Linked DNA regions of Homo sapiens. The protein of the gene in region 1 purifies or fractionates together with the protein of each later gene. This does not show direct contact. Each region holds a gene or a part of one and is shown in the gene's direction. Other genes may lie near its edges.

The links.
Region 2: the proteins of SLC2A12 (region 1) and PDXDC1 purify together in Homo sapiens (affinity purification with mass spectrometry; 2 studies listed by BioGRID and IntAct, with this or other methods). This does not show direct contact.
Region 3: the proteins of SLC2A12 (region 1) and SLC25A51 purify together in Homo sapiens (affinity purification with mass spectrometry; 2 studies listed by BioGRID and IntAct, with this or other methods). This does not show direct contact.
Region 4: the proteins of SLC2A12 (region 1) and WDFY3 purify together in Homo sapiens (affinity purification with mass spectrometry; 2 studies listed by BioGRID and IntAct, with this or other methods). This does not show direct contact.
Region 5: the proteins of SLC2A12 (region 1) and TAMM41 purify together in Homo sapiens (affinity purification with mass spectrometry; 2 studies listed by BioGRID and IntAct, with this or other methods). This does not show direct contact.
Region 6: the proteins of SLC2A12 (region 1) and MTFR2 purify together in Homo sapiens (affinity purification with mass spectrometry; 2 studies listed by BioGRID and IntAct, with this or other methods). This does not show direct contact.
Region 7: the proteins of SLC2A12 (region 1) and RER1 purify together in Homo sapiens (affinity purification with mass spectrometry; 2 studies listed by BioGRID and IntAct, with this or other methods). This does not show direct contact.

What each region holds. Positions count from the first base shown.
Region 1 is NC_000006.12:134,000,625-134,004,124, reverse strand, and holds part of SLC2A12 (solute carrier family 2, facilitated glucose transporter member 12), read left to right. Parts: intron 1-1,995; coding exon 1,996-2,128; intron 2,129-3,500. UniProt on the Homo sapiens protein: Insulin-independent facilitative glucose transporter.
Region 2 is NC_000016.10:15,013,026-15,016,525, forward strand, and holds part of PDXDC1 (pyridoxal-dependent decarboxylase domain-containing protein 1), read left to right. Parts: intron 1-3,103; coding exon 3,104-3,188; intron 3,189-3,500.
Region 3 is NC_000009.12:37,887,128-37,890,627, reverse strand, and holds the end of SLC25A51 (mitochondrial nicotinamide adenine dinucleotide transporter SLC25A51), read left to right. Parts: intron 1-2,035; 5' UTR 2,036-2,077; coding exon 2,078-2,971; 3' UTR 2,972-3,024; downstream 3,025-3,500. UniProt on the Homo sapiens protein: Mitochondrial membrane carrier protein that mediates the import of NAD(+) into mitochondria. Mitochondrial NAD(+) is required for glycolysis and mitochondrial respiration.
Region 4 is NC_000004.12:84,963,891-84,968,118, reverse strand, and holds the start of WDFY3 (WD repeat and FYVE domain-containing protein 3), read left to right. Parts: upstream 1-1,428; 5' UTR 1,429-1,910; intron 1,911-2,260; exon of another isoform or gene 2,261-2,503; intron 2,504-4,228. UniProt on the Homo sapiens protein: Required for selective macroautophagy (aggrephagy). Acts as an adapter protein by linking specific proteins destined for degradation to the core autophagic machinery members, such as the ATG5-ATG12-ATG16L E3-like ligase, SQSTM1 and LC3.
Region 5 is NC_000003.12:11,822,886-11,826,385, reverse strand, and holds part of TAMM41 (phosphatidate cytidylyltransferase, mitochondrial isoform a precursor), read left to right. Parts: intron 1-3,500. UniProt on the Homo sapiens protein: Catalyzes the conversion of phosphatidic acid (PA) to CDP-diacylglycerol (CDP-DAG), an essential intermediate in the synthesis of phosphatidylglycerol, cardiolipin and phosphatidylinositol.
Region 6 is NC_000006.12:136,230,534-136,233,311, reverse strand, and holds the end of MTFR2 (mitochondrial fission regulator 2), read left to right. Parts: intron 1-1,923; coding exon 1,924-2,037; 3' UTR 2,038-2,278; downstream 2,279-2,778. UniProt on the Homo sapiens protein: May play a role in mitochondrial aerobic respiration essentially in the testis. Can also promote mitochondrial fission.
Region 7 is NC_000001.11:2,390,354-2,394,640, forward strand, and holds the start of RER1 (protein RER1), read left to right. Parts: upstream 1-1,487; 5' UTR 1,488-1,605; intron 1,606-4,287. Other genes in the region: MORN1 (MORN repeat-containing protein 1), read right to left, coding at 1,105-1,180. UniProt on the Homo sapiens protein: Involved in the retrieval of endoplasmic reticulum membrane proteins from the early Golgi compartment.

The sequences.
Region 1 (3,500 bases):
GCTAATACACTGGAGGAGCTAGTGAAGCTTTAGAAGTTCCGTATGGGCTTTTAGAACAAATGTAGGAAAACAGATCCACTTAAAAACAAAAAGCCTAGAATGCTCTAAAACCTTTAGATGACATTTAATTGGAATGCTTGACATTTCCTACTTATTTTCAAAAATAAATTTTCCAAGTGTAGGACACAGGGATCTAAAAGACGTGAGGTTCTACTTGGCAGTAAGCCCTTAAACACCAACATTTTTTATGCAATTTCAGCTGTATCAATAAAAGCAGACTGTTCCAGATAGACAAATGTACTCTGCAGTGATCATGACACAATTGTAGCATTGCATTCAGCTCTGAGTAAAACATCTCGAGAGGGCCATTTAAAAATTGCAGTGTGTTCGCTGAAGGAGGGCAACCTGAATGGCGAGGGCAGTAACCTATGCTGTGGGAAGAATGGTTGAAGAGCTCAGGATGTTTGACTTGGACAAGGGGATTCTCAGAGGAGGGCTGAGGTGCATTCAAATATTTGAATGGCTGTCACGGAGAAGGGGTGGGGAGAGCTGATTCACTGTGTGTCCTTCCACAGGACAAAGCACAGCCTCTGAAAGGCAGATTTAGGATCTAAGCAAGGAATAACTTTTTAGCAGACGCAACTATTTCACAGGGCAGTAAGAGGCTTCGTGAAATGGTGAGCTCCCTGTTACTCAAAGTGCTCAAACAAAACTGGGGACAATTTGATGAGACAGCCTTTAGGGTTTTGACAATTTCTATATTCTGGTTTTAAGCTCCAGAGAAGGAAGGACACCCAATTCTACAAGGACTTTATTAAGCAATCAGTTGGGCCATACCCTGTGCCAGCTAGAAAAGCAGAGAGAGACAGGAGTTTAATTAAAATTGCCAAAAGAACTGCAGTGCGGTTCCTCCTTCCTGCTTCTCCCAACCTCAGCACAACTCACCGACAAGTAGTTACTATGCTTCGATTCTTTCATGCTGCATTTACAAACACTGCCTCAGTACACAAGTGCTCAGTCAGTTTTCCTGCCTGACCAACTGTGGTTTGTGGCTGCAGCTGTTAAAGGCTATTTGTAAAATCTTGTTGTTCGTAGTTGACTACTCCTTGCCACACTAGACATTCTGCTGCTGAGTCAGGGGCCGCCACAATGCAAATGGCAGCCTCAAGTGCACTGTGGGGGCCACTGCTGACCACTGAATGTGCCTTGACTTGGTCCATGACTACAAAGGGACTGTATCTTTGGCTGGAAGCGGTCAGAGGAAAAACTAGGTTTGCAGATGAGAGTCATCAGAATCTTGAGGATCCTGCTTCTTGTGATGCATCTTGGCAAGTTGATGGCTTTTACTGGATCCATGATCACTTTTTTCTCTGAACCCAGGAAGAAACATTACAAATACACTGCAAGCTATTAAAAATGATGAAATATTGCCAGCATGAAATGATTTATTCACATCAGAGCAAAGAAGGGTGAGCTCATTCCAAGAAAAATCCATCTGTACAAATGTCATTAAAAATGTCCACCATTGGGAATGATAGCAAGAGGGGGAAAAAATTGTCCACCGAACAGAAACTAAACTGCTACCATGGCGATTCCCAAGAGGGGAACTGTGGAGAGGGAGAAGAGAGATTTTACCTTCTACATCATATGTTTCCATGTTATTTGAGGTTCCTTTTTTGCATGTGCTTTTTTATATTAATAAAGACACATTGCCATTTTGAAACAGAAAGACATGCCCACCAAGAAGATGACATTGGGTGTAAATTGTGATAGTTACAAGACTGCTATTTTCTTCAACAGAGAAAACTAAGGTAGTCTGTAAAAGTAACACCTTCAGAGCTGGCTACATTTTAAATTTGTGATTTCTATTTTCCTGGATACTGCTGGCATGTTTGAAAATACATATGGTGCTATGTATGCCCTAAGTGGCTGTTCACAAATGGGATCAAAGCTACACAAAACACATTTCTAATCAATTTCTTTTGTCCTTTATAGATCTTATTGGCCTGCCATGGGTGTGCTTTATATATACAATCATGAGTCTAGCATCCCTGCTTTTTGTTGTTATGTTTATACCTGAGACAAAGGGATGCTCTTTGGAACAAATATCAATGGAGCTAGCAAAAGTGTAAGTATTACATGCATTGGTTTCTGAACAATACTCTTTGGTCAAAAGTGCAGCTTTTATATACAGCAAAGGAATAATATCTGAAATTATTAGATATTATTAGATTAGGACATTCCCTTTAGCGTAAGACTATGTCTCAGTGCATAATTCCAATTTCCCTGCTTTGTCTTTAATTTGGGTGATTCAGCTAAGGAAGAATAACCATTTCTTCCCAATGAATGAAGCTTTTTTTTTTTTTTTCAAACTACAAAGTGAATGTATTTGATTGGCAAGTGCAAATTTTCACTTATCAATGAAATATTGTACTGAATTTGAATAAAATCTTTACAATTGGAATGTTTTTTAACGTTAGCCTTTTATAATTATCATCAAACTGTAATGCTATTATTCATTACTATGACCAACCAATATGTACGTACAAGGTTACAAGTTTTTTCCTTTTATACGAAACAAAAACAAAAATACATCATTGTAATTAAAAAGCATTAAACCATATTTTCCTTTTTTGTAATGTAATAATTTTTACTAGAACAAAGTTTAATATTTTCACTGTCTGCATTTCTTTTCGGAAAAAGAAACTGTTACTATTGTTGTTTTACCTGATTTTTTCCTGAAACTAATTTTGTTGTACAGAGGATGTGAATCTTCTGTGCTACTGATTAAAACTATCTCATTTAAAAAACAGTTTATTTCCATAGGTTTTTGGGGAACAGGTGATATTTGGTTACAGAGTAAGTTCTTTAGTGGCGATCGTGAGATTTTGGTGCACCCATCACCGGAGCAGTATACATTGAACTCAATTTGTAGTCTTTTATCCCCCACCACCCCCCAATGCTTCCCCCACCCAGTCCCCAACCAACGGGTGAACATTTTAAAGCTCTACTCAATCACCATCTCAGAACTTCTTCCGCCTCTCTAGCTCCCCCCAACAGGTTTTCTTTGTTTGGGGTTTGGGGTGGGTCCCGGAAGTGTAGATATACCATGTTCACACTGGGCTAGGAACTTGGGTCTCAGCCTTTCCATCTCTATCAGACTTAGAGCTCCTTCTCTGTGCCCTAAACACTTGCTAAGGCTAAGATTAGCAGAAAAACTCTCAGGCTTAACCATCTACCGTTGTTCTAAATATTGCACATTTAAGGTAATTTTAAGAAAGATAAGTTTCTTATATGAATAGGCTTTTAGAAAACTGGTTTAAAAAATTTCACAAGGAGAGATTGTTTAAACAATTTAACTTAGAAGTGAAACATTTAATTTAGAAGTGAGTGGCAGAAAATTCCCTTTCCTTTTTTAGTAGCTCTAATTGCCAAAACCATGTCCTGGGGGAAGAGGTGAGACATAGGGGCTAAGAATGAAGCAGAACTTGTTACTCTTC
Region 2 (3,500 bases), on another chromosome or scaffold:
TGGGTGTGGTGGTGGGCACCTGTAGTCCTAGCTACTTGGGAGGCCGAGGCAGGAGAATGGCATGAACTCGGGAGGCAGAGGTTGCAGTGAGGTGAGATCGCACCACTGCACTCCAGCCTTGGTGACAGAGTGAGACTCTGTTTCTGTAAAAAATAAATAAGTAAATAAATAAAACTTGCCAGGTGTGGTGGTGGGCACCTGTAGTCCCAGCTACTTGAGAGGCTGAGGCAGGAGAATGGCTTGAACCCGGGAGGCGGAGCTTGCAATGAGCCGAGATTGTGCTACTGCACTTCAGCCTGGGCGACAGAGTGAGACCCTATCTCAAAAAAAAAAGAAAAAAAAAAAAAAAGGCAAAAAACTACAGTGACAGAAGCAGATCAGGATTTTCCAGGGCCAGTGAGGAGTCAGGGAAAGGGTAATTATATTGGGGTTGATGGGATTTGGGGGTTGATGGAAGTATTCTGAATCTTGATTGTGTTGATGGTTACATGCTCTATATATTTGTCAAAACTCATTGGACCGTATACTTACATGAGTGAGTTTTGTTGCATGTAAATCATACTACAATAGGCCGAGCATGAGAGCTCATGCCTGTAGTCCCAGCACTTTGGGAGGCTGAGGCAGGCAGATCACAAGGTCAGGAGTTCAAGACCAGCCTGACCAATGTGGTAAAACCCCATCTCTACTAAAAATGCAAAAATTAGCCAGGTGTGGTGGTGTGCACCTGTAGTCCCAGCTACTTGGGAGGCTGAGGCAGGAAAATCGCTTGAACCTGGGAGGTGGAGGTTGCAGTGAGCCAAGATCGCACCACCGCACTGTAGCCTGGGCGACAGAAAGGGTCTCTGTCTCAAAAAAAAAAAAAAAAAAAAAAATCATACTACAATAAAACTGCTTATTTAGGCCGGGTGCGGTGGCTCATGCATGTAATTCCAGCACTTTGAGAGGCCAAGGCGGGAAGATCACCTGAGGTCAGGAGTTCAAGACCAGCCTGGCCAAAATGGCGAAACCCTGTCTCTACTAAAAATATAAAAATTAGCTGGTTGTGGTGGCAGGCACCTGTAATCCCAGCTACTTAGGAGGCCGAGGCAGGAGAATAGCTTGAACCCAGGAGGCTGAGATTGCAGTGAGCCGAGATTGCGCTGCTGCACTCCGGCCTGGGCAACAGGGTGAGACTCTGTCTCAAAAAAAAAAAAAAAAGACAAAATAGAAAAACCACATAAATATTCACTTTATTGCCAACAGGAAAACCATCACTTCCTGCCTTATTGTTTAAAAACACAAATTCACCCATATTCAATCACATGATAAACTGGAGGGGCTGCAGTTTGCATGTGACTGAGTGACTTGCCAGTGTGATTATGTTGCAGATGTCAGCAGACACATGTCAAGGGTTAGTCACCAGACATTGCCAAGAAATACGAAAAGAGAATCTGCATGCGATCCAGGCACTAACACAGCAGTACGCTTTTATTTTGCTGGAAGAGCCTGTGGCACAGCCCATGCATTGACATTTGATCTTGTTTCAGCTAAACTAAATGTGTCTGTTAAGATTTTTTTTTTTTAATTTGAGGTAGATTTAGGTATGAGGGGAAAAAGTTTTCAGCCCTTTTCCTGGCATAGACCTTACAAAAGAACTACTTTCTTTAGCTGTGTTTGTTGAGGCCGTTGGTGAGTGTTTGAAATCTTTTTAGTTGGCTTACTGCTAACTGGAAATTTAGGACGGTTGGGGGAATGCCTGACTCAACGTTTTAACTAAGCTCTCTCTGAAAAGGGATCTCCCCAGCAAAATCTGTAGTGCAATCAATTACCAAGGGAGCGGCTGAAAGTGCTTAATATGCTTAAGCTGGCTTCAGAATGCATGTTCTGTATTACAAGGAACCTGGGTGGAAACAAAACAAATTCATCTATATGTTTTGTTTGTTTGTTTTTTGAGCTGGAGTCTTGCTTTGTTGCCCAGGCTGGAGTGCAGTGGCACGATCTCGGCTCACTACAAGCTCTGCCTCCCAGGTTCACGCCATTCTCCCGCCTCGGCCCCGCGAGTACCTGGGACTATAGGCGCCCACCACTACACCCGGCTAATTTTGTTTTTGTATTTTTAGTAGAGACGGGATTTCACCGTGTTAGCCAGGATGGTCTCCATCTCCTGACCTTGTGATCCACCCGCCTGGGCCTCCCAGAGTGCTGGGATTACAGATGTGAGCCACTGTGCCCAGCCCACCTATATGATTTTTATAAAGGGCATATCTAAATCAAAATAATCCAGGAAGTGACAATAAAATAAAAAGGTGGAAAAGTTTATCTTGGACAAATGCTGACAAAATGAAAGTACCATAGCCATATTAGTGTGGGATAAAATAGACTTCATATTGATGAAAGATGTAATCTCCTAAAAGAAATAACAGTTATACCTGCTGGGCACGGTGGCTCATGCTTATAATCCCAGCACTTTGGAAGGCCGAGGCAGGTGGATCACGAGGTCAGGAGTTCGAGACCAGCCTGGCCAACGTAGTGAAACCCCGTCTCTACTAAAAATACAAAAAAATTAGCCGGGCGTGGTGGCCACCGCCTGTAATCCCACCTACTTGGGAGGCTGAGGCAAGGAGAATTGCTTGAACCTGGGAGGTGGAGGTTGCAGAGTTGAGATCATGCCACTGCACTCTAGCCTGGGCGACAGTGTGAGACTCCGTCTCAAAAAAAAAAAAAAACAGTTATGAATGCTTGTGAACATAACTTTAAAATATATAAAGGAAAGCTAAAGGAAAAGTCTGATGTAACACAAGTATATATTGACAAACCACAATCTTGGTGGGAGATTTGAATATATTTCTCATGAGTCAGCAGATCAAGTAGATAGAAAATAAGTATATAAAAGAATTCAATGACACAATTAGATACATGTAATAGAGATTACATACTCTTCAAAGCTTGTAATAAGTCAACTCACAAACACTGATTTTAAGTCCTTCCACAAAGAAAATCTCAATAAAATAGGGATATAATAAGTCACTTCCCTCCTAGGGCGATAATGTGTATAAAAGTGTTTAAGGTATAAAGCCTTAGAAAACATTTGTTCCTTTTAATGCCCTGATGTGTTTTATCCTAGGAACGGCAGCAGTAGGACACACAGACAAGATTGGGAGATTGAAAGAACTCTGTGAGCAGTATGGCATATGGCTTCATGTGGAGGGGTAAGCCGGCGGTGAGGCTGGTGGCTCCATTCGGGCCTGCACAGAGTCCTTATGAGGACTGGACATCCAGGCTCTCACTTTGGTGACATTTATCACGAAGGGCTCTTTGGGTCACAGATCACAAAATAACCCAAATTGGCTTAAGCCCAAAGAGATCTTACTGGCTCACATAACTACAAAGAGCAGTGTTATGACTGCCTCAGGCACGACATCAACCAGGATCCAGTGTGTTACTCCCACCTCTGCTCCCCCAGTCACAGGCACTGGGCTTGGTTTCCTCTATCTGTGGACAGATCTTCCTGTTACAGTGCA
Region 3 (3,500 bases), on another chromosome or scaffold:
ACTTCCTGGGCTCAAGAGGTCCTTCTCCCTCCACCTTCCCAGTAGCTGGTGTACGCCATCATGCCCCAAAAATTTATTTTGATTTTTGTAGAGGCAGAGTCTCACTATGTTGCCCAGGCTGGGCACAAATTTGTGGCCTCATGCAATCCTCCCACCTTGGTCTTCCAAAGTGCTGGGATGACAAGTGTGAGCCACTGCGCCTGACTACTATTTTTAATTTTTAAATTATTGTTATTATTTTTAGAAACAAGAGTCTTGCTCTGTTGCCCAGGCTGGAGTGCAGTGGTGCAATCATGGCTCACTGCAGCCTTGACCTCCCTGGCTCAATTGATCCTCCCACCTCAGCATCCCACATAGCTGGGGCTACAGGCATGTGCTACCATGCCCAGCTAATTTTTAACTTTTTCATAGGCATGGGATCTCTCTATGTTGCCCACACTGGTCTCAAACTCGTGATTCAAGCAATCCTCCTGCCCCAGCCTCCCAAAGTGCTGGGATTACAGGCATAAGCCACCATGCCTGGCCAGTATCTTACTGTTAAGGAATTAAAATCCAATTAAAAAATATTTAGCCTCATATACACACACACATACACATATGTGTGTATATATTTATATATATTTCTAATATATAGAAGTTTCTATATATTTCTATTATATCTAAGATACAATATACAGTTATCATGTTATCCCCCAAATAAAGGTGATTTCCAAGACCAGAACTGGAAGGTGGGAATTATTCTGTATGACCCAGCTATTTGGATCTGGATTTTTTCAGGGAGAAGGAATCAGATTTAGATGACTGGCAAGGAAAGATCATGCATTTTACAGAAGGAGGTGTATTATAGGGGTGGAACTTTGGCTTAGTTCCAATCATTTTCAGCAGTATCTAGTATAGCCACCTCTTATCCCAGGGCAGCCTCACAAAGTCATTGCCATCTGTGATATGGTAGCAGGGATATGAGCCCTGGAATCACTCAGACTTCATTTCAGAATGCTGACCCCACCAGTTACTAGCTGTGCCCTGAACAGAACAAAAGAGAATACTGGTTTTATTCATTTGTAAAACTGGAAAAATAATTGTGGAGTTGTTTTGAGAATTCATACATGAAAATAGAGTGCATGGTACATACCTGTAGGCCTTCCTTGCCCCCATCATCCCACACCTCCACCTTCCAAGGTGCATGTTCAGTGTCCCTTACCTGTGTTCCCACAATGGTTGGTTATCATAGAAGCTGTCACATTGGTGTAATTGTTCACCTTGGCACATTCTATTAGTTTGTGAATTCCTTATCTTTGAATCTCTAGCAACTTAGCAGAGGACCTAGTTCATAGTAGGTACCAAAGAAGTATAAATATGAATAGAATGAGTGCATGTCTTGCTGTTTTATTTCTCAGGGGAGGAATGTGGGCCTATTTCAGCAGGACAATAGATAGATACCGTATATAGTGTAGTCAGTAATTACGAACTAGTCTAGTGGCTCTGAAAGTTTTTGGTGTTAGGACTCCTTTACAGTCTTAAAAATGATTGTGGGCCCCAAACACCCTTTGTTTATGTGGACTGATATTCAGGGTCTTTAGGAATTTAAAATTAAAATATGAATTTTAAGGTAATGATAAACACATTACATGTTAACACATTTTCATGAAAAATAACATTCATGCCTCCCATTTTTTTCTAATGATTTTACAGTCATTAGAAAATATTTTACAGTTTTCTAAGCCTTTTGCATGTCTGACTTAAGATGGAGTTTCCTGTTTGCTGCATTCAGTCTGTTGTGATAAGTCATTTTGATTAAAGTATATGCAAAAAATCAAGCCTCACATAGATATGTAGTTTGAAAAAGGAAAATCTCCTGGACTCCCAAAAGGATCTCAGGGACTTCCAGGGGTCTTCTGAAAATGCTTTAAGAATCACTGATCTAGTCTGAAAAGGAAAGTGTGGTGTCCAGATATTAGAGGATGGATTAGGGAGAAAGCCCATGTGTTTAGCTCTCTATAAAACGGGTTTACCCGTTGTCATTTATTATTTGTAGGTTAAAAAAAGTCCTTCATGAAAAAGAAAGATCTTAAGCAGCATGATGGATTCAGAAGCTCATGAAAAGAGGCCACCAATACTAACATCTTCAAAACAAGATATATCACCTCATATTACAAATGTTGGTGAGATGAAGCATTACTTGTGTGGCTGCTGTGCAGCCTTCAACAATGTCGCAATCACATTTCCCATTCAGAAGGTCCTCTTTCGACAACAGCTGTATGGCATCAAAACCCGGGATGCAATACTTCAGTTGAGAAGGGATGGATTTCGAAATTTGTATCGTGGAATCCTTCCCCCATTGATGCAGAAGACAACTACGCTTGCACTTATGTTTGGTCTGTATGAGGATTTATCCTGCCTTCTCCACAAGCATGTCAGTGCTCCAGAGTTTGCAACCAGTGGCGTGGCGGCAGTGCTTGCAGGGACAACAGAAGCAATTTTCACTCCACTGGAAAGAGTTCAGACATTGCTTCAAGACCACAAGCATCATGACAAATTTACCAACACTTACCAGGCTTTCAAGGCACTGAAATGTCATGGAATTGGAGAGTATTATCGAGGCTTGGTGCCCATTCTTTTCCGGAATGGACTCAGCAATGTCTTGTTTTTCGGCCTTCGAGGTCCCATTAAGGAGCATCTGCCTACCGCAACGACTCACAGTGCTCATCTGGTCAATGATTTTATCTGTGGAGGTCTATTGGGTGCCATGTTGGGATTCTTGTTTTTTCCAATTAATGTTGTAAAAACTCGCATACAGTCTCAGATTGGTGGGGAATTTCAGTCTTTCCCCAAGGTTTTCCAAAAAATCTGGCTGGAACGGGACAGAAAACTGATAAATCTTTTCAGAGGTGCCCATCTGAATTACCATCGGTCCCTCATCTCTTGGGGCATAATCAATGCAACTTATGAGTTCTTGTTAAAGGTTATATGAAAAAACCATCAGTTAAGTGCCATTTATCAACTGAATAGACCTTCTAAGAAGAATGCAGTTTGGCCTCTTTTTTTTTTTTTTTTAAAGGAAATCCCAATCTTATTATGGAAAGCCATCAACTGGGTGTGGGGAGTAGGTCAGAGGGTTAGTGAAAGTCCAGGGGATTTCTCCTCCAAGTCCTACCACACAAAGGAAAGTCTCAAGCCTCTATTCACCCCTTCTCAATCCTCACAAAATAGGGGGTTGTTCAATATTGTCTTCAATGATAAAAACTTTGTGGTTAAAAGTTTCTCCTTAGGACTAGTGACAAAGTTAGGCTTATACTTTTTTTTTTTTTTTTGAGGCAGAGTCTTGCTCTGTTGCCCAGGCTGGAGTGCAGTGGCACGATCTTGGCTCACTGCAACCTCCGCCTCCAGGGTTCAAGCAATTCTCCTGCCTTAGCCTCCTAAGTAGCTGGGATTACAGGCGCCCGCCACCACGCCCAGCTAATTGTTTTGTATTTTTAGTAGAGACGGGGTTTCACCATGTT
Region 4 (4,228 bases), on another chromosome or scaffold:
GATTAAATATTAGAATTCTGCTCCGCCCCCCACCAAAGGATACCGGTATTTTTACTAAAATATATTTTTAGGTTTGTTTTGGCATATTCTTTTCAAAGAGATTTGAAACTCTTAAATTGTTATAATTACAAAATCTTATATTTGAACTTTCAAAACATTACTCATTTTGAAGTAGAATCTAAAACTACATTTAAAAACATTTCTGCCCACATTTGGTCTGTTTAAGGGACTAACCTTTGAACACACTAGTCTTATTTTGAAAGGGCAAGGTGTTTTTTTTTTTTAATAGCCAGTGCCCCACAGAAGAAAAACTGTGACACCCCCCCCCCACAAAGTGCTCATATATATCACCTGTGTTTGTTAGCAATGTTACCTCCAACTTTGTTATCTTGGAGTAATTGACGAGTAAATCATTACAAATGGGTCCAACTCTAAAGGCAAAATCGTCAAAAAGAAGAAAACAGCAAATCCAACTTGCCTTATGTTTATTAGAGGAAATCCTGAAACTTCTGTAGATTGCAGTGTTAGGAAAAACAAGTTTGTGATTACAGCGATGTTATGACCACTTCCCCACTCTAACTCTGTTGTTTAAGGGAGTCCACTCCTAACTGCTGACTCAGTTTGTCTTTACTGCCAGAACTGAAGCGTGACCCAAATTGTCTGCTGGGTTGAGTAGGAACAAACGGGCAAAATGATGATCACTTGGCAGTTCTAGGTTTACTAAAGGATACTTATTTGGTCTAAACACTGTTTGTGGGACTGCAAAGGTATAAATAATGCCCCTCCCAGGAAGGAAAAGGAAAATCTAAAATCTTAGGCAACCGACTCAAGGTCACTGACGGAAGGCACCATTTGAGACCGAGCTCCTCAACTACAGTCCCATCACGGACGGGAGCCACACAGGAGAGCGTGCAGGAGTTTCGAAGCTGCGTAGTACAATAGCTGGCGTGGGCAGTTCTTTTATACTCTGGCTAGAGTAAAATTAACGCACCTTTGCGTTTCTCCATCGCCTCTGACAGCATCCAGCTAAAGGGTGTAGGGTTAAGGAAAGCGGAACCCAGTTGTCCTTTCTCAGCTGAGTCCTTTCAGAAACTGGGACTGAGGAGGGTGAGCGCCGCGGAGAGGGGCAGGGGTGGGAGAGGAGAGAGGGGCGCGGGGCGGGGAAGAGGCGCGTCTGGAAGGCAGTGGGGAGAGGGACTGAGAGGAGTGGGGTTGAAGTCCAGCTGGGAGCATCCAGCGGCGCTGTCTGCAGACAGGGGCGAAGGCAGCCGCTGAGAGTGAGGCAAGAGCGGGAAGCCGAGGGAAGGGAAGGAAGTAAGGAAAGAGGAAGGAAAGGCAGGAGGGGGTAGAAGCTGAGCGGCTGCAATTTCTGCGGCCGGCTCAGTAGGAGGAGCAGGAGGGGAAAGAGGAGGATCCAGTCAGTCAGTCAGACAGCCAGCGGGAGGTGGAGAAAGCAGGAGGAGGAGGAGGATTAAAGATGGCCACCAACAGCTGCGGGAAACGGCAACAACCCCTCACTTTCCGGGATGGTCCCTGCGGGTCGGCCCGGCCTTGATGGAGAGAAGAAACCCGAGGAGCGCCGAGGCTGAGGCGGCGGCGGCGGGGACCCAGCGAGGACGAGGACGCGGCGGAGCAGGGACGGGGGCAGGAGAAGGGAAAGGCGGCGGCGTCGCTGCCCCTGCTGCCTAGCACCGCTGCCTGGCCCGGCGGACCGGTTCCCATACCTCGCGGCCGCAGAATCGAGCTCGGGCCCCGGCCCCCGGCCCGCGGCGCGGGGCTCCCGGGCCCCGCCGCGGACGTCGCGCCGGTCGCCCCTTCCCCGTAGCCCGTGCGCCCTCGGCGCGGAGCCCCGGCCCGCCGCGGTCCCGTCTCCTGGGCCTGTCCCGCCCGCGCCCTCCGCCGGCCCTCAGGTGAGTACCCCCGCCATCCTCCCCGCCCCCCGCGCTCCCGGAGAGGCGGTGCTGCCTCGGCCCGGCGCGCCTGGCCGCTTTGTTCGTGCGGGGCGGAGGCGCTGCCCACTCGCGGCCCTGCGCCCGCTCCCCCTAGGGACAGGCCGCGGCCCAGCTGCTGTCCTCCCCAGGGTCCGCCTTGGCCGGGAGCCGCCGCCGCCGCCAGGGTGGGCGGCCTGGCCCTAGTCCTCCGCTGCCTCCTGGGGAGGGCGCCGTCGCGGACGGGTCGGGGTCGGGGTCACGGGCGGCGAGCGGAGCGGAGCGGAACCGGGATATTTCGGGGGATAGGGGAGGAGAGGGCTGGACGTTACCTGTGGGAAGCAGTGGGGGCGTAGGCGGCCCTGGCTCGCAGGGGTAGGGGATCAGGCCCTGGCCCCCCCCCGCTGCATCCTGCGGGGTCTCAGCTCCCGGAGCCACCCGGACCTGAGCGCAGCCGAGCGCGGCCTCCATCCCTCGGGCGCTGTCTCCAGGGCTTCGGGCCTCTCCCCCTACGCCCTACGCTGGAAGCCCTTCGATTATGGAAGGAGCCAGAGATGCTCCAGTTCTCTTGTACTGGGGATGTGGTGGCATCGCAAACATTCACAGTTACGGCGGGATTTAAGAAGCAGATGAGACCTTTCCAACCAAAGGCCATCTGGCTAGTGTTTGAGCCTCAGGTGCAGTTTTTCATTGATTTTTACCATTTAATTGTGAGATCTGCAATATCAGGTCTTCCTTTCACAGAAACAATGTGATACAACCAGATTGAAAGGATATTTACTGCATATGTGAACCCTTGCATGGACTTCCAGTACCTTAAAAATGGTTAAGTGTTTTCTGTTGGAAAATGGTGCTCATGCATACGAAAAACTATTTTTGTTCAGTAATGGTTGCCAACTGGTTTACTATGTAGTTTGAACACCAAACAATTAAAAAGGAAAAACAAAACCCTATTCTTCGGGCTTTTTAAATAGTGGCATATTTCCAGGTTGGTATTTGGTAGCAGGTTGAGAACAACTGGTTTCGACTATCAGGCGACGTAACAAACATAACATAAAACAGAACTAAAAATGTGCTAATTTATAGAAAAACATGTTGTATTAGTGCATAAGTCTAGTAAAAAAATCCGACTTTAAAAAAAATAAAACTTTATCATGAGACTCTTAAGTATAGGAATTAGGTTGGTATGTTTTTATGTTTAAAAATATATATTGCATTAGAATTGAGAACTCTTCCTATGATATTTGAGCAATAGTAAAGTATGTTAATACTTTGAACCATTCTATCTCAAGCTGCTAGAAAGAGGTTTCTACTGCTAGTTTCTTTCCATGAGTTAAAATGGATTCATCTGAAATATATGTATGCTTTTGGTGGGTCACAGTGGGTCATGCCTGTCATTCCAGCACTTTGGGAGGCCAAGGCTGGGGGATCACTTGAGGCCAGGAGTTAGAGACCAGCCTGGGCAACAAAGAGAAAACAATTTTTGTAAAGAAAAAAAAAAATGTTTCAAAAAATTTGTATCACCTCCAAAAAGGAGGGATAAGTTAGAAAATACAATGTTCTACTCTTGCATAATCTGTTTTTGAAAAAGTAAATGACAGTATATTTCAATATTAGTTGGATTCTCTGCTTTGAAGAGATTCTTAAATTCCACTGCTCAACTTTGCAATTTTAAAAGTTTACATCAGTTGTTCTTAATTTATTTATTTATTTCTTTTTTTAGAGACAGGGTCTTGCCCTGTTGCCCAGGCTGGGGTGTAGTGGCACGATCACGGTTCACTGCAGCCTTGAACTTCTGGGCCCGAGTGATCCTTCTCCCACAGCCTCCCAAGAAGTTAGGACTACATGTGCATGCCACCATGCCTGTCTAATTTTTCTATTTTTTGTAGAGATGAGGGTCTCCCTGTGTTGCTCAGGCTGATCTTGAACTCCTGGCCTCAAGTGATCCTCCTGCCTTAGCCTCTCTAAGTGCTGGGATTACAGATGTGAGCCACCATGCCCTGCTTCTTTCTTAATTTCATGCATATACTTCTGAGGGTCCTTGGCTTCCCAGAAATCATATGCAGAATATAGCATATATTTGCTTTTTTCCTAGATAAAGACTCTGTTGGGTGATCACATTCTCAAAAGGATATGGGTCTGTAAAAGATTATGAACTTCTAGATATAAAATTAAAGAATACATATTCCATATTTGGAAAGCTAAAATTTTTAAATTACATTTGATGATTTATGTCCTTCATTTCTGATTATGCCCAAGAAATGTTTGTGATTAAGAGTTCAGCACATAGACGTTGTTTC
Region 5 (3,500 bases), on another chromosome or scaffold:
GGCTAATTTCGTTTGTGTAGCGACAGGGGCTCGCTGTGTGCTTCTGCTGGTCTCGAATTCCTGAGCTCAAACGATCCTCCCGCCTCGGCCTCCCCGAGTGCTGGGATTATAGGTGTGGGCCACTGCGCCTGGCTGCCTCCAGCATCTTATCTCATTAATAGTCAGTGTTCAGAAAATGATTGCTGTTATTATTATTTTTATGTATTATTGTTGGTCAGATGGGTTTTCCTCAGGTTGAGAAACTGTTATTTGCTCAATCATCCAGTGATTGATGGACACTTATATTAGCTCCATTTCTCACTGTTTTATTAGCAACACTGCTGTGAATCACTTTGTACAGATTACTTTCGTTGGGAAAGGGGCAAAGGAGGCACTGACTTCCTTGGATGTGTTCTCCAAAGTGGAATTATGTTGTCAGCTATAAAAATTATAAAACTTGTTACATATTGACAAACAATGCCTGTCAAAATTTGCAGGGTGCTGTGGCTCACACCTGTAATCCCAACTTCCAGGCTGCAGTGAACTATGATCACACCACTGCACTCCAGCCTGGGCAACAGAGCCAGACCCTGTTTCTTAAATTAAAAAAAAAAAAAATTAGCTGAGTACTTAGATCAGATGGATTGAAACATGACAGCCCCATTTCATCTGGCCGGTTAAGGTCCTCATGGAATGAAAAACACTTTCGGGCACTCTCCTATGAGAGAGAGAATGGGTTTCTTTAATTGCCAGATTGTCTGAACACAGCCTCAGCTACTTCTAGGAATAAGACGAAGCAGTGAGGAAGTTGCCAGTTGAGTGATTCTTGGGGAAAAAAATTAGCATTCAGTGCCAGCTCTCTAAAGTGTGGATTCTGGATTCTGGTAGAAGCCAGTAAAGAAACGTTTTCTCTGGAGTGGAAGCTAGTAAGATTTATTCTGTGGTGATGAAGCCATCTGAAACCTTACAAGCAGTGTGGTTGTATCAGCATATGGGAGCTGACTGCCTCAGGACTTTGGAAGCCTGCTTCTCTGTGCCTCAGCCGGAACTCAGGTTACTCAGTAGTCATTTGCTAATTTCTGAGAACGCAGCACTCCTGAAGGGATAGAAAGCATGAACAATACCCAAACTTTTTAGACTAGTACTGTGTGTCAGGTATTGTAACATTCATTCAGTCCCTGAAATGTACAAACTAGTTATTGCTCCCCTTTTTCATTTGAGGATACTGATGCCCAGATAAGTTAAGTGGCTTGCCCTGGGTCACATAGCTTGTAAATGCCGAGCTAGCATTTGAACCCAGGCAGTCTTCTTCCTGGAATGCTTGCTCTTAACACTTCACTGTTCTATGAAAGGTCTTTGGTGGTGGGCGTCACTCCTGGTTCACACTTAGGTCACTCCTTCCCCAGGACCCACTGGGTCACACCTCCCCTCCCCACACCCACCCCAGTGGGCCTCAGTTCTGGCTTATCATGGAGGCCTTCCCTGACTGCTACTGCAACTCCACCACTCCCTATGTCTTTCCCTGTTTGTGTTTTCCCCATAGCACTTTCCACAGTCGGCTACACTGTATCTTATTGTTGGTTGGCTGGCTGATCTTTGGTCTTTGTTCCACCACTGAGGATGTGGAGGGAAGGAATTGTTGTCTTGTTTTGCTCCTTCTGTTTGGATGCTTCCAATAGTATGTGACATGTACTAGGTGCTCAGTAAATATTTGATGAGTGGATTATACTGCTTCCTTCCTGAACCAATATAGTGAACCTGAGTCCTCCCTATTACTTCCTACTTTTGTATTTTCTAATGTATACAAAAGGAAGGCCAGGCATGGTGGCTTACGCCTGTAATCCCAGCACTTTGGGAGGTGGAGGCGGATGGATCACTCAAGGTCAGGAGTTCGAGACCAACCTGGCCAACATGATGAAACCCCATCTCTACTAAAAATACAGAAATTAGCCGGGCGGGCGAAGGTTGCAGTGAGCTGAGATGGTGCCACTGCACTCCAGCCTGACAACAGAGCGAGACTTTGTCACAAAAAAAAAAAAAAAAAAAAAATTAGCCAGGCATGGTGGCACACACCTGTAGTCCCAGCTACTAGGGAGGCTGAGGCAGGAGAATAGCTTGAACCCAGGAAGCAGAGGTTGCAGTGAGCTGAGATCATGCCACTGCACTCTAGCCTGGGTGACAGAGTGAGACTCTGTCTAAAAAAAAAATATTTACAAATCATGCATCTGATAAGGGACTAGTATCCAGAATATATAAAGAATTTTTAAAATACAATGGATAGGCCGGGCGCAGTGGCTCACGCCTGTAATCCCAACACTTTGGGAGGCCAAGGCTGGTAGATCACTTGAGGTCAGGGGTTCCAGACCAGTCTGGCCAACATGGTGAAACCCTGTCTCTATTGAAAATACAAAAAATTAGTTGGATGTGGTGGTGTGCACCTGTAATCCCAGTTACTTGGGAAGCTGAGGCAGGAGACTAGCTTGACCCCAGGATTCGGAGGTTGCAGTGAGCCGAGATCATGCCACTGCACTCCAGCCTGGCGACCGAGTAAGACTCTGTCTCAAAAAAAAAAAAAAAGCCGGGCATGGTGGTACACACCTGACCTGTAGTCCCAGCTACTAGGGAGGCTGAGGCAGGAGAACAGCTTGAACCCAGGAAGCAGAGGTTGCAGTGAGCTGAGATCATGCCACTGCACTCTAGCCTGGGTGACAGAGTGAGACTCTGTCTAAAAAAAAAAAAAAAAAAAGTAAAAAGGCAGCTAACAAAATGGAAGAAAATGTTTACAAATCATGCATCTGATAAGGGACTAGTATCCAGAATATATAAAGAATTTTTAAAACACAATGGAAAGGCCGGGCGCAGTGGCTCACGCCTGTAATCCCAACACTTTGGGAGGCCAAGGCTGGTGGATCACTTGAGGTCAGGGGTTCAAGACCAGTCTGGCCAACATGGTGAAACCCTGTCTCTACTGAAAATACAAAAAATTAGTTGGACGTGGTGGTGTGCACCTGTAATCCCAGTTACTTGGGAAGCTGAGGCAGGAGAATAGCTTGACCCCAGGAGGCGGAGGTTGCAGTGAGCCAAGATCATGCCACTGCACTCCAGCCTGGGCAACAGAGCAGGACTCTGTCTCAAAAAAAAAAAAAAAAAAACAACAACAACAACAAAACAATGAAAAGACAATCCAGTTTAAAAACAAGAGAAGGATTTGAATAGCCATTTCTTCAGAAAAGGTATTCAAATGGCCAGTAAGCACATGAAAAGTTGTTAAACATCATAGGTATTAGGGAAATGGAAACATCAATACAAATCACAGAGACGCCATTCTATACCTGCTACAATGGCTGTGATAAAAAAGAAAGGCAAGAACAAGTGTTGAGAATGTGGAGAAATTGGGACCCTCATACATTGCTGATTAGATTGTAAAGTGGTACAGCTGCTTTGGAAAAAAGCCTGGCAGTTCCTCCAAATGTTAAACATAGCTACCATATGACCCAGCAGTTCTACTCCTATATATCTAC
Region 6 (2,778 bases), 2.2 Mb from region 1:
ATGTAAAATTAATTTTTCAGTTTTTCTCAGATGTGTTGTTTATGTTACAGCTTTGTGTTCAAGTTCTCTTGAAGTAATTGTGCAGAATGGGCTATATAATTGTTTATTGATGCTGCTAATGTTTCTGGGGTTTTTTTGTTGTTAATTTTATATGCTCATTTTCACTTTTAGCCTATCATGAGCTCTTTTGAAATAAAATACTTAATTTGAAAAATATTTGTGCATATGTTTATAATGACTTATCTTAGGTGCCAATTTGATGTTGCCATCTGCAGTATGAACTGGGTGTCTGACAGTTTGAGAGGGCCAGGGAAGAATGGTGCAATAGATTCCCCCTAACCATATGGAATGTGAATACGCCAAGATTTTTCTCTGTCAAATATACAGACTTTGGATATTTTGTTGAATATAATGTTAACTCTGCATGTAAAAAAGCAAATGGGATTATAGTTATCTTTAGTGACAGCACTTACTGGATGCCTAGGATGACAAACACTGGATTTTAAGCATTTGAGCCTTAAGATTACTCCTTACTTGAAGTCTCTTTTCTTAAATTTAGAAGTAATTCTAATTTTGGGGTGGTTTTCACATGTCTTAATTTAGTTGAGGTAGTATTAACACATAAGAATAAGCCTTGAGAATGACAGGAGTGTGGAAGAGGAACAGCATCTAAAGTCAGCTAGATAGCACTGAGGAAGGACAGACGTCAGCAGAGGAAGAGACTGGAAAACTCAGATGCATTGAGCCCTCCAAGAGTGTAACAGGGCCGGGCGTGGTCATCCCAGCACTTTGGGAGGCTGAGGTGGGCAGATCATGCATGAGGTCAGGAGTTCGAGACCAGCCTGACCAACACGGTGAAACCTCGTCTCTACTAAAAATACGAAAATTAGCCGGGTGTGGTGGCACGCATCTGTAATTAATTCCAGCTACTCAGGAGGCTGAGGCAGGAGAATTGGTTGAACCCGGGAGGTGGAGGTTGCAGTGAGCCAAGATTGTGCCACTGCAGTCCAGCCTGGCGACAGAGCTAGAGTCAGTCTCAAAAAAAACAAAAAAAGAAAAAGAGTGTAACAGAGTGGAGGGACTTGTCACACACACACATTGCCACTCCAGTGTGTGCAGCCTCTGTGCTCACCATTGTGTGTGTGTGTGTATATATCTGATGTTTAGCATGTTGACTTAGAAAATTATATTCTTTTAACTATTTAAGAAGACACTTTAGAACTATTACTATAAAAATGCAAGTGTGTCTAAAATAAATGTTTAATTTTAACATTTGTAGAGCAGTTTGTAACTTGCAAAGTACCTTTTTTACTCATCTCACTAGATCTTCACAGCAGCAATCCCTTTTCCCCCGAAAATGTGAGGGAAATGATCCCTGTAGTGCCTATAATCCCATATCTAAGGGGCAGAGCAGAGACTAGAACTTGGTTTCTTAAAATTTGAGGATGTTTGAAAATTTGAGGATGCATTTATGTAAGAAGTTCCCGTAGGTGGAACACACTGTTTCCCAGTGATAGTGGATAAACGAAGTGTTTCTAGGTTGTCATTTACTGCTTGCTATTAGTTCAGTGTCTCTTAGCACTTTTTCCAGCCAATTACAAGTATTTTAGATAATCTTCTTTTTTTTTTTTTTTTTTTTTTTACATAGTTTTTAGCACTTAATTTCAGGCTGGGCACATAGGGACTCAAATTTTAGTTGCCTAAGAGCTCAGTCTGTGCCGCTGAGAGTGTCTCGTTCACTTTTGTCCTTGGCTCTGAGCGTAGTACCTGATACATAGCCAAATAACTATGTATTATAGTAATAAATACGGTAAATAAATATTGTGAATGAAACCTCAGAGGGTCATCTGGCCTTTGTCTTGCCATTCTTTTTTTTTTTTGACATTAGAATAATTTCTGTGTTAAATATTTGCTTTATTTCAGTTTGGACATCACATTTCACAGTCAGAAGGACAGCGAACTAAAGAAGAAATGGTCAACACAAAAGCTGTTGACCAAGGTATCAGCAACACAAGCCTTCTAAACTCAAGGATTTAAACTCAACTTAAGGTTGAGCTTTAAACTTCCAAAACTTCTTCCTGGATGATAAATTATTCTTAGAAACTGATTTGGACTGTTAAAGGCTAAAAGTAGATGTATTTAAAGACTCTTCTTGACACATTTTGCCTACACTTGCTATGTAAATATGTATGCCTGTCATTTTTGTTTCCTTTGTTCCTTTTTACGTTTATACTCTGTTCTTCTGTACATAGAGCTTAAAATAAACATTCTTTTTGAACTTGCTTGTGTTTTGTAGCAACCAAAATTCATGTTTTCTCACCACATAGTCTGACCTTTTTTTGTTGTTGTTTTTTGTGAGGAATGCCATAGGTAGAGTTTCTTGGATAATAGAAATGAAACATAAGTTTGCAACAGATATTTTGTCCCTCTTCTCCCACATACTAATGTGATATGGAAATTTACATGTTTCCCTGGACCTTTCAGACTGTGTGCAACAGCCAGGGAGCTGAGGTCACCACTGGAATGGACTCAGCCCCACCCATTTTGCCAAGCTCTTCACTTTCAGCAAAGCCCAGGTTTCCTACAGTTTTCTTGTTGTTGTGGTAGAGAGTTGCTTGCCTAGCCCCAGCTAGGAGTGGCTGTGTGGCAGTTATGACCATGAAGAAAAGGGTTAGAATCACAGAGATGACATCACTGAGCTGTTGAACCAACATCAACAGCTCCAGTTAGGAGTGGCTGTGTGGCAGTTATGACCATGAAGAAAAGGGTTAGAATCAC
Region 7 (4,287 bases), on another chromosome or scaffold:
AGGCAGAGCGGCAGTGTCAGTGAGGCACACAGGGGAGGAGCAGACTCTCCCATCCCCTGCCGTGGCCCTTCAGTGGCCTCCTATCGCTGGGGAGAAAATCCACACTCATACCCAAGGATGGCCTGGCCGGCTTCATCTCCTCCTAGTTGCTGGGTGTGCCACCCGCCAACTCCTGCAGTTCCAGGAATGGGCAGGGCTCCCTCCCTACCAGCTCCTCAGGCACATTTTGTGGGCAGGGTTTATGGGAAAATGTCGGGGAGGAGGGCAGGGGGTTACTACAGGCTACTGTATCTGTCCCAAATCAGGGTCAGGTTCTACCTGAAGATAGTAGTGTTAGCTCTGAGTTCATTCCAGACCCGTTTATTTGATTCTAGAAACAGTTCCTATCAAAACCTGCTCTTTTTTTTTTTTTTGAGACTGAGTCTTGCTCTGTCGCCCAGGCTGGGGTGCAGCGGCGCGATCTCGGCTCTCTGCAACCTCCGCTTCCTGGGTTCAAGCGATTCTCCTGCCTCAGCCTCCCGAGTAGCTGGAACTACAGGAGGCACCACCCCGGGCCAATTTTTGTATTTTTTAGTAGAGACCGGGTTTCGCCATGTTGGCCACACTGGTCTCGAACTCCTGACCTCAGGTGATCCACCCGCCTCGGCCTCCCAAAGTGCTGGAAGTACAGGCAAAAACTGCTTTTGAAACGCGTCCTAGCGTTTCTGGACAGCACCGGCCAGGAAGTCAGGAGGCTTGGTGCTGCTCCTGCGCCTGCCCTCGCCCCAAGTCCTGGGCTTCGGGATCCCCATGGCAACCCCAGGTCCCGCTGGCTGTGAGGCTGCGGCCGGAACCCGGTCTTCCCGGCTAGGAGCCCGCGGGGGGCGACCCCCTGCAGGGCTTGGCCTGCTGCGGGAGGAGGGCTCGGGGAAGGGTGCGAGCCGAGCCCGAGGCGCACGGCGAGTCCTGTGGGAGTGGGGGACGCGGGGGCGGCCCTGGCTCCGCCGCGGCACCTGGACCTCTACTTTCCGAGGTGAGCATTTGGGGGTCGAGGGCGTAGAGCGATCGCACCCTGAATGGAGCCCAGGGCAGCCAGCGACCTGTCCCGTGGCCCGCAGTCGTTACCGTTCCGGGGCGGCCGCCTAGGCGGGTCCCGACGCGGCCCGCGGGAGCTCGGGGTGCCCTCGCCCGCCGCTGCCATCTTGCCGCCGAGGGTTCTCTTAGCGACCAGCAACGCCCGCTTCCATTGGTCTTTGTCGCAAGGGGGGGTGTGGCCACGGGCCTAGTCCCTGAGCCCGCGCAATCTCTGGAGCGAAGCTAGCCGGGCCCGGAGCCAGAGGACGCAGCTGCGCCTGTGCGCGTTTCCGCCGCTGTCGTCTCTTCCGCCGGGAGGCCCGCCCGCCAACGGCCTGCGCGTCTGCGCCGGAAGCGGAAATGGTTGGAGCCCTTGGCCCCGCCCTCGCGCCATCTTGGGGGCCCTGGAGGCGGCGCCGCGGAGGACGGAGCGGAAGTGCTCGCTGCAGCTTCCCGGAGCCGGAGCGCAGCGCCTGCGGCCGCCCGTGCCCCGCCGTCCTCCTTCCCGCGGCCGTGAGGGAGACCGCGGCTCGGCCGTAGCGGAGCTGCGAGGTGCCAGGAAGGGCTGCGTGGCGCGGGAACGGCCGGGCAGCGCCGCCTCCGCTTCTTCCGGGCTGTCAAGGCCGCGGGCGGGCGGGGCCGCGCTGAGGGCCGGGCGGGGAGGGCCGTCGGGGCCCGGGTGGCCGCGGGGACCGTGTTCCCGACCCGCGGCCCTGAGGGGTACGGGTCGCGCCTCGGGGTCGGGCCCGGGACGGGGTGCTGGGGGGTGCGGCGGAGCCCTGGGGCCTGCGAGGGTCGGGGGAGCGGGAGAGGGGCCGGGCGGGGGCTGCAGCCCTCGAGCCACCCGGGCCGCATCTCGTCCGCATCCCCTGCTTGGCATCTGGGGGAAGCGGGCAGTCGCGGCCCCCACAGCGCTGCGAGTTGGGCTGTATTCCAGAGTAATGTGCCCTGTCCCCATCCTGCGTCCAGGTCAGCGCTTATCTGTAGGATTTAGTGTTAAGCTCTGGGGTGAAGGCGTTACTGACGGGCTGAAGGGAAACTAGTTACATCGGTTTTGATCGTATTCTAAATAGGCAATAAAATCATAAATTCTCCAGGCTGACTTAGTACTGGTCTGTGGCCCCACTGATAAAGGTATCGTTCGTTTCTCTGCCAGGTGTCTCACAGCACAGAGGGCTGCTTTCAGCCTAAGTACCTTCAGTGGGCTTTTGCCCTTTTCCCTTTATGAAGAGTAGAGACTGGCCGCTAGTCCTGGAAGCACTTTATTTTTAGTTGAGTTGACATTTCCCAGGAAGATGCAGTTATCCCCGTAAGTGGATAAAGGGTTCTCAGTAATTCAGACTCTCACATGGCTTCTGCCGTATGCCTGAGGTGACGGCGACGGCGGTAACAGTGTGTCAGAGCCAGGTGGAGATATAAGATGGTCAGGCCCAGAGGAGCGGGGAGCCCAGGCTGGAATGTGGCCTTGGGAAGGAGGAAGAGACGGGGTCTGGGAGGGCATTTCAGAGGACTGAACAACACCAGAGGCGTGAAGCTTGGTGCACGGCAGCCGGGGGCTTTCTTAGTCCCGGAGGAATTGGGGATGGGGACGTGAAGAGAAAGGTGGGAGCCAGACTGTCAATGCTCCCGGACGCCAGGCAGAGGACTTCATCCTTTCCACGTGCAGAGTGATGGACCACAGATGTGGATGAATGTGACGGGCCTGGAACAAGGCACATAGAGAGTCTTACACTTTCTGGCACGTCCTCATGGTCTCTGCTTGGACTGGTTTTATCTCCCTTTCTGTTTTGTTTGTGACCAGGCATAAAGCAGTCACCTTCAACAGGTAATTGATGGGCTGTCTACTATGTAATGGACTTCCAGGTGGCAGGGCCCAGCCCCGAACCAGACAAGGGACCCCTCAAGGAGCTTCATTCTAGCAGGAGAAAATTGAGAAGTAAACCAGAAAGGTATCAGGAAACAGTTGTACACAAAATAAAAATAGGGTGATGTGATGTAAGGGACTGGGGGTCAGTGTGGGCGGTAACGGAGGCCTGTGAAGAGGAGGTGGGCTTCAAACTGAGCAGAGAAGAGGACTGCAGAGGGGGCAGCTGGTGTGAGGGCTGGCCCTGATCCAGGAACAGGGCTGGCACTGCCTTGCCCGGCTCCAAGGGTGCTCCACGGGCTGCCCACTGATTCCTCACGAGAGCCTTGTGGAGAAGGCATGAGAGGTGCTGTTGTCCCATTTCACAGACTGGAACCTGAGGCATCCTGGAATAGCCTGTCCTAGTCACACTGGCAGAGAGTGGTAGAGCCAGGATCTGAAAGCAGGCTGTTGGAGTCCAAAGTTCACGTTCTTGCTCCTGCCGCCCTGCCTCAGGCTATTCCTGGCAATGCGTTCAGTCAGGGTGCAAGCTGTGTTTGGTATACGTGTGTGTTTGGTATACGTGTTGTGTGTGTCAGACAAGCAGGATTGGCTGATGGCGTTTTGAGTAGGTTTTCTACATGTTCAGTTGGAGAGTGAGAAGTTCTGAGCTTTGCCTAGAGAACACCCTTTGGCGGGAGAGCTGGGTATTTTCTCCCTGACATTACTCTCATCACCTCCAGTCCAGTAAAAGTGCTTTAATGGGAAACAGTCTGAGTAAAACGGGGAAACTTACAAGGAGCTATAGGACGAACAATGTGACGGGTGGCTTTCAGATGGCCTGGCTTTGGCCTAAATAGGGTGGCCATTCCAGGTGACACATTTTAGTGTAGCCTCTATTTAAATATGGAGTTCTTTCAGTGGAGAGTAAAGGTGCTCCTCCTCTGTGTCTGGTTTACACGGCTCCGCGAGACCAAAGGGCCCCTCGGTCTCCTTGAGCAGCCTGGCACTCTGCACAGAGGATCCAGGAACGGTGTCATGGAGCCACATTCTGCACAGACTTGATGATGTGGAGGGAGCTGCCTGGATCACTTCAGCGCATCAGTTGTGATGGGAGAGCCAAGGCACTTGAGGGCGGGATTGCGTCTGGCCACCTGTTGCCTTCCACCTGAAGGGAAGATTTCCCCAGTGCTCACAGTGAGGATGGGACTGGAAAAGCGTTGGTTTCAGGAAGGTGCAGGTTCTGGCTCCTGCCCACTGCGAACATGCTGATGGGCCAGGGCAACTCTTTAGTCTTTGTGAGCTTCAGTTTTCTTATCTGTAAATGAGAACAATAAGACTGACCCCAACTGTTGCTGAGGAATGATGTCTTTGCTTTCATGTCTGGTATT